Linked DNA regions of Homo sapiens. The protein of the gene in region 1 purifies or fractionates together with the protein of each later gene. This does not show direct contact. Each region holds a gene or a part of one and is shown on either strand. Other genes may lie near its edges. The genes, in order: IMPA1 and SCPEP1.

Region 1 (3,825 bases):
ATGCCACCACGCCTGGCTTATTTTTGTATTTTTAATAGAGACGGGGTTTCACCATGTTGGTCAGGCTGGTGTTGAACTCCTGACCTCATGGTCCGCCCGCCTCAGCCTCCCAAAGTGTTAGGATTACAGACCTGAGCCACCACACCTGGCCCCTATTTTTAAAATCATTACATTTCCTTAATGATTTCTTATCTGCCGCAAATGTGTGTGTGCACACACCTTACCCTAGTATAACATCTTATAATTTGAATTTTGAAATTTTTCACATCGCTTTATTCATGGGGAAATAAATTAAAGCTTCCTTACATTTATCAGTCTTTACCTGAAGGAAGAAGAAGCAACAATAGAAAAGTGTAGGGTACAGACTTTTGCTATTTTTTTTTTTTTTTTCCTGAGACAGAGTCTCTCTCAGTTACCCAGGCTGGAGTGCAGTGGCACGATCTCGGCTCACTGCAACCTCCGCCTACCAGGCTAAAGCCATTCTCCTGCCTCAGCCTTCCAAGTTGCTGGGATTACAGGCGCCTGCCACCATGCCCGGCTAATTTTTGTATTTTTAATAGAGATGGGGTTTCACCACATTGGCCAGGCTGGTCTTGAACTCCTGACTCAGGTGATCCGCCCTCCCTGGCCTCCCAAAGTGCTGGGATTACAGGCGTGAACCTCCACACCTCGCCTGCTATGTTTTATAGTACTCTGTGTAGCTAAGGAAATGTTATGATTTGGAAATTGTTGAAATCAGTGTAAAGATTAAGAGTTTGTCCTACTTGGCTTTTAGTTTCATTGGTGAAGAATCTGTGGCAGCTGGGGAAAAAAGTATCTTAACCGACAACCCCACATGGATCATTGACCCTATTGATGGAACAACTAACTTTGTACATAGGTATGTTTTAAAATGTCTAATATAATTACTCTTTGCATATTAACTGGATTGACCTATAGATACTCTATTTAGGAACATGTACACTTTAGAAAATTGTATACTTCGTTTATGCTTCTTTATTCTAATAAAGTATATATAAAATGTAAAAGTGGAGCAAAATGTATTATGCAGACTTATCAGATATGGAGGAGGTAAAGAAATACTAATGTGATCTTGTCCTGTGGTGCCAAGTGCCCCGTTCACCATTCTTTTTCCCACTGTTGGCACTATCTAAAAAGGGAAGCAAACAACATTGCTGCTTTGAGAGTGGGAAGGGCACTTTGCACTGCATGCCATTTTCTATTCTTTGAGTGGCATGTACCATAGATCTATATGGATCTACTAATATGCATCTATTAGTAGTAACTATGTAAAAATATGGTTTTTTTTTTTTAAGATGGAGTTTCCCTCTTGTTGGCCAGGCTGAGATGCAATGGCGCAGTCTTGGCTCACTGCAACCCCCACCTCCCGGGTTCAAGCGATTCTTCTGCCTCAGCCTGCCAAGTAGGTGGGATTACAGGCACCTGCCACCACACCCGACTAATTTTTGTATTTTTAGTAGAGGCGGGGTTTCACCATGTTGGCCAGGCTGGTCTTGAACTCCTGACCTCAGGTGATCCTCCTGCCTCAGCCTCCCAAAGTGCTGGGATTACAGGCGTGAACCACTGCACCTGGCCAAAGATATGTTTTCAAAGAATAAAAATAAATTTAAAAAATTATAAACTGACTATGTTAAAAAGATTGTATTTTAGTAAAACTAATGAAGTCACTCTTGGGGAGTGCTGTCGATATAGAATGAGTTCAGTCCAGGAGAAAAAACACGGTTAAAAAGTGCAGAGGAGGCCCCTCTCCTCAGCCCTTAGGGTGACGGGGATGGGGATGGGGCTGGGGCTGGGGCCGGCAAAAAAAAAAAAATTGCATGGGTGTTAGGATGAATAGACGTGCATTCTGGTATTTTTTTACGGCTTTTTCACCTTAGGCAAGTTAGTTAACTTTTCTAGGCCACAATGTTAAAAAACATTTATAAAAAGGCCGTATTAATAGCACTTGCCTCGTAGAATTGTAACTCAACTCTATGAGTAGTACATTAATGTAAGAACTTAGTATAGTGCCGACACAGAGTAGGTATATGATATTACTAGAAGAAAGCCTGGTGGAATTGCCCATGAGAGTTAAAATCAGTAGCCGCTTCTGGTGGGATTACATATAGATGTCATATTTGAAGTTCCCATGTAGTTGTACACATCTGTACTATATATACAATCCTTGAAATCTACAAAGCTAAGGTTTAGAATCTATATGTGATAGAATGTTATATCTTTTAAATGTGGAAAGATGCTAATATATTTTCACAGAAGAGAAGACAGTACAATACAGTGTGTATAGTATCTTATTTTTGTTAAAATAAAAACTTTCTTACATATTTAAAAGTTTTTATTTTCAACAGCTTTAGCTTCAATAGTTGAATGTTGATCTTGTCTATTTCCTTGATCTTAATTCTCTTGTGAGTCAGCAGTTACAACCTGTGTTCAGACTGTCATGCAGCTATGGAAAAATTTTGGCTCAAAGTCTACTTTTCAGAGGCCAAGCCTAAAGTTTGCTGTTGGAGTAGAGACAAGTAACAGCCATTTATTTTGTCCAGTGCAGTATTTGTGTTTATCACGGTGTAGGACATAGGAAAAAAACATCACAGGCCAGGCGCGGTGGCTCATGCCTGTAATCCCAGCACTTTGGGAGGCCAAGGTGGGTGGATAACCTGAGGTCGGGAGTTCGAGACTAGCCTGACCAACATGGAGAAACCCCGTCTCTACGTAAAATACAAAATTAGCCGGGTATGGTGGCACATGCTTGTAATCCCAGCTACTTGGGAGGCTGAGGCAGGAGAATCACTTGAACCCGGGAAGTGGAGGTTGCAGTGGGCTGAGATCGTGCCATTGCACTCCAGCCTGGGCAACAAGAGCTTAACTTCGTCTCCAAAAAAAAAAAAAATCACTAAAATATATGCTTTTTAACCAAATCGATTTAAAAGTTTTTACAGTTTTCTTTTTTAACCAAATTGATTTAAAAGTTTTTACATTTTGGCTTTTTTTTTAAAGGGGGACAGCATCTCTGTCACCCAGGCTGGCATGCAGTGGCATGACTATGGCTCACTGCAGCCTTGACCTTCTGGGCTCAAGGGATCCTTCTGCCTCAGCCTACCGGGGAAGCTTGGACTATAGGCGTGCACCGCCACACTCAGATAATTTCGTGACTTTTTTTTTGTAGAAACAGGATCTTGCCATGTTGCCCAGCCAGGCTGGTCTCGAACTCCTGGGCCCAAGTGATCTTCCTGCTTTGGCCTGCTAAATTAGTGCTGGGAGGAGTGAGCCGCTGTGCGTGGCCATGAAAAAATATTTTTACATAGCTACTATATTCATAGAATTTGACCTTCAAAAGATAGAAAACGCAGTGCAAAATGCCCTTCACACTTCCATTTCTGGTTTCCCAGGATCCATCTCTGGAGATGACCACTGTTACAAGTTTCTCGTGAATCCTTTCAGAGATGTTTCATGCCTATAGAAGCATCCTGTGTGAACGTGTGCCTGTGTGTTGGGGGGAGGGTGTGTGTGTATAATACCTCCACTTTATCCTATTTACAAAGGGTTGTATACCATACAAACTGTTTTGCATCTTAGATTTTGTGGGGAGTGGAGATGAGACTTTTTATAGGAAAAATTTTAAGAACACTTATATTATGAAAAGATTAATTTTATTAACAAAAGTTCTATGTTGGTTAATTTGTATTTTGTCCTTTTTTTTAAAAAAAGATTTCCTTTTGTAGCTGTTTCAATTGGCTTTGCTGTAAATAAAAAGGTATGATTTTTTAAACGTATAGTTGATTATATGCCTTGCTCTCATTTTCTGAG
Region 2 (3,825 bases), on another chromosome or scaffold:
ACAAAGCAGATTTGTTTTTTCTGGTCATTACGTGCAATAGAAATTTGAAATTAATTTGTGTGACTCAAAAAGCAATCAAGGTAGTTAATTCTGTGTAATTCCTTTTCTTGCTAGACAGTTCCATTCTACATTTTCTCAGAGTCCTATGGAGGAAAAATGGCAGCTGGCATTGGTCTAGAGCTTTATAAGGTAATGGAAAATAACTTTGTTGTTATGGTTTTGGACAGAAAATCAATTATGTTACTTTTATGTACTCACGTGCTATTAAATATACTTTGAATAGGGCCATGTACATGCAGAGTACGATTAAATCTGTAGTAATAACCATAAAAAGTTTTTAAAAGAAGAATGAAGATTGCCCTGCTAGATCTGGAACAAGATATAAAGCATGAGTGAGTAAAAGAATGTGGTACTAACATAGCAATAGACAAATAGGTTAATTGCAACAGGATACAGAATCCAGAAACACACACACATATATATGTATGTGTATCATATATTTGTATTTTATATAAATATATATGATCATATATAAATATAAGATAACGTTTCAAATCATTGGGGCATGGATATAATGTCGATAAATGTTATGGAGACAAATACCTATCACTTTGGAAAATAGAAAACTTGTATTCCTGCCTTGTATAAAATATTAATTCTGGATGGATTAAAATCTAAACATAAAAATAAAAATAATGGAGACAAATACCTATCACTTTGGAAAATAGAAAACTTGTATTCTTGCCTTGTATAAAATATTAATTCTGGATGGATTAAAATCTAAACATAAAAATAAAAATTAGGACAGAATGCAGTGGCCCACGCCTATAATCCCAGCACTTTGGGAAGCCCAGGCAGGAGGACTGCTTGTGACCAGGAGTTCCAGACCAGCCTGGGCAACATAGCGACACCCTGTTTCTACAAAAAAAAAAAAAATAATAAGCTGGGCACAGTGGCTCCTGGCTGTAATCCCAGCTACCTGGGAGGATGAGGTGGGAGGATCGCTTGAGCTCAAGGAGTTGAAGCTGCAGTGAGCTGTGATCATGGCACTGCACTCCAGCCTGGGTGACAGAACAAGACTGTGTCTCAGGAAAAAAATGAAAACAAAAACCAAAACCAATGTCCTAGTAGAAAAATGTGGACAAGCAATTTGTAGAAGAAATATAAACAGCCTTTAGACATAAGAAAAATCTTCAGCTTTTATTAGTAAGCCAAGTCCATGAGATTTGTAAATATTTAAAAGACTGATAACACCCAGTTTTGGTAAGAAGTCAGGGAAATAAGTGCTGTCGTGCACTTTTGATGGGAATACAAATTAATTTAAATTTAAAAGGACAATTTGACAATGTCAATTTTTTAAAGATATGTGTCATTTCACCCAATAATTTTGTCCTATGGGAATACTTATACATATGTATATGTCAGAGAATGTTTATTATGCCATTGTTTATAATGTTTATAAACTGAAAACAGCTGGTTGGCTGTCAGTAGAGGATTGCTTAAATAAAGTAGGTATATCTTTCCAAGATGAAACCCTTTGCAGCCAGCATAAAGAATGGATCCAGGCGGGCGCGGTGGCTCATGCCTGTAATCCCAGCACTTTGGGAGGCCGAGGCCGGCAGATCGCTTGAGGTTAGGAGTTGGAGAGCAGCCTAGCCAACATGGTGAAACCCCATCTCTACTAAAAATACAAAAATTAGCTGGGCATGGTAGTGCACGCCTGTAATCCCAGCTACTAGGGAGGCTGAGGCAGGAGAACTGCTTGAACCCAGGGAGCAGAGGTTGCAGTGAGCTGAGATTGCGCCTCTAGTCTGGGTGACAGAGCGAGACTCTTTCTCAAAAAAAAAAAGAATGGATCTTAGCACTTTGGGAGGCTGAGGTAGGAGGATTGCTTGAGATCAGGAGTTAGAGACCAGCCTGGACAACATAGTGAGACCCCTGTCTCTACAAGAAAGAAAAAAGAAAGAATACAGAGAGCTATATATACTGAGTGTGGAAAGTTCTCCTTTGGGTATTTAGTTGTGGAACGATATGAGATAACTTTGTTTGTAAGTCAAAAACACTTCCATATGTGGAGATAGATTTGTATGCTGTGACGGCAAACAAAAGGGTTAGAAGGATACATGACACACTTAACTGCAGTCAGTTGGTGAGTGTGAGGGCACAAATGAGACAAAGTAAAAGACTTTCACATTTCCTTCTATCTCCTATGTTTGAATATCAGTGAGCTTAAATAAGGGTTTTTTTTAAGATTTATTAATTTAAAAAACTTATAGAAACAGCATATGTACATTATAGAATATTGGAAACTGTAACAAGCATAAATTAAAAATGAAAACTTCACCTTCCCACCTGATGGAGATCACTATAGTTAGCATCTGGGTATATAGCTTTCTAAATATTTTTGTGCACATTTATATAGAATTGTTTAGCTGAATGAGATCATATTATACATACTGGTTTCAGCCTGCTTTCTTCAATCAGTAGTTCTCAACTTTCTATTTCTGTAAATTTTCATCTCAAATATTCAGACTTTTTCTTTTTGAGACAGGATCTTGCTGTGTTGCCCAGACTAGAGGCTGGAGTACAGTAGCATGATCATGGCTCACTCCAGCCTCTGCCTCCTGGGCTCAAGTATCCTCCTGCCTCAGCCTCCCGAGTAACTGGGACTACAGACGAGCACTACCGTGCCTGGCTAATTTTTGTATTTTTTTGTAGAGATGGGGTTTTGCCATGCTGCCCAGGCTAGCCTCGACCTCCTGGGGTCAAGTGATCCTCTGACCTCAGCATCCTGGGTATCTGGGACTATAAGGCACATACCACCATGTCCCACTGATTTTTTAACTTTTTGTAGAGATGGGGGTCTCACTACATTGCCTAGGCTGGTCTTGTATTCCTAGGCTCAAGCGATCCTCCTGCCTAAGCTTCCCAAAGTGTTGGGATTACTGCGTGAGCCACTGCACCTGGCCTGAGGACGTTTCTTGTTTCCTCTTTCAGGCCATTCAGCGAGGGACCATCAAGTGCAACTTTGCGGGGGTTGCCTTGGGTGATTCCTGGATCTCCCCTGTTGGTAAGTGTGGCATTTTCAGGCATTTTTTCACTCCCCTTTTGCCCATCCTTTCCTGGGACTTTGGGCTGTGTTGTCCAGATCAAAGAGCTAAGCAGGAGAATGTTCTGGGCCCTTAGAGAAAGTGTTTGCTACATCCAAGAAATATAGAGACAGAGTGCCTACCATGGACCACTAAGGGCTGAACTGAGTTTTCTTAATTTAATTATCACAACAAAAGGATCAAATTTTACAATTGGAGGCATTCTGAAGACTCAGAGAGGTCAAGAAATGTGCTATCTGCCACGTAGGATGAGTGGCCTAGTCAGGATTCAAATCCAGGTCTGTGCTGCTCAGTACAAAGGCAAATCTGTTTTGTCATCCTGCCCCCTCTACTTCCCTGATGCTGACATAAGTGTTTGGGGTAAAATTCCCGTCTGTTACGCATATTGATGGCAAGACAAGGTTATCGTCTGGTCTTGCAACTCAGAAGTGTGCAGTTTTGTAATTGAGCATCCGTGTTGCGAGCATAAATAAGAGTTGTTTATGTTGCAGACACCCAGGGTGTGGCCCCAGACATCTGAAACAATCATCCTGGTGGCGTTCACTCTAACACAGGGTTTCTCAGCACTGTTGACATTGTGGGTCATATAGTTCTTTTTGTGGGAGGCTGTCCTGTGCATTGTAGGATATTATCAGCAGCATCCTTGGCCTCTACTCAGGAGATGCTAGTAGCACCGCTCCAGTGTGACAACCAGAAATGTCTCCCTGGGGAACAA

What was found.
Region 2: the proteins of IMPA1 (region 1) and SCPEP1 fractionate together in Homo sapiens (co-fractionation; one large-scale study listed by BioGRID). This does not show direct contact.

The regions. Positions count from the first base shown.
Region 1 is NC_000008.11:81,676,181-81,680,005, reverse strand, and holds part of IMPA1 (inositol monophosphatase 1), read left to right. Parts: intron 1-775; coding exon 776-880; intron 881-3,726; coding exon 3,727-3,772; intron 3,773-3,825. UniProt on the Homo sapiens protein: Phosphatase involved in the dephosphorylation of myo-inositol monophosphates to generate myo-inositol. Is also able to dephosphorylate scyllo-inositol-phosphate, myo-inositol 1,4-diphosphate, scyllo-inositol-1,3-diphosphate and scyllo-inositol-1,4-diphosphate.
Region 2 is NC_000017.11:56,988,102-56,991,926, forward strand, and holds part of SCPEP1 (retinoid-inducible serine carboxypeptidase precursor), read left to right. Parts: intron 1-114; coding exon 115-189; intron 190-2,997; coding exon 2,998-3,070; intron 3,071-3,825. UniProt on the Homo sapiens protein: May be involved in vascular wall and kidney homeostasis.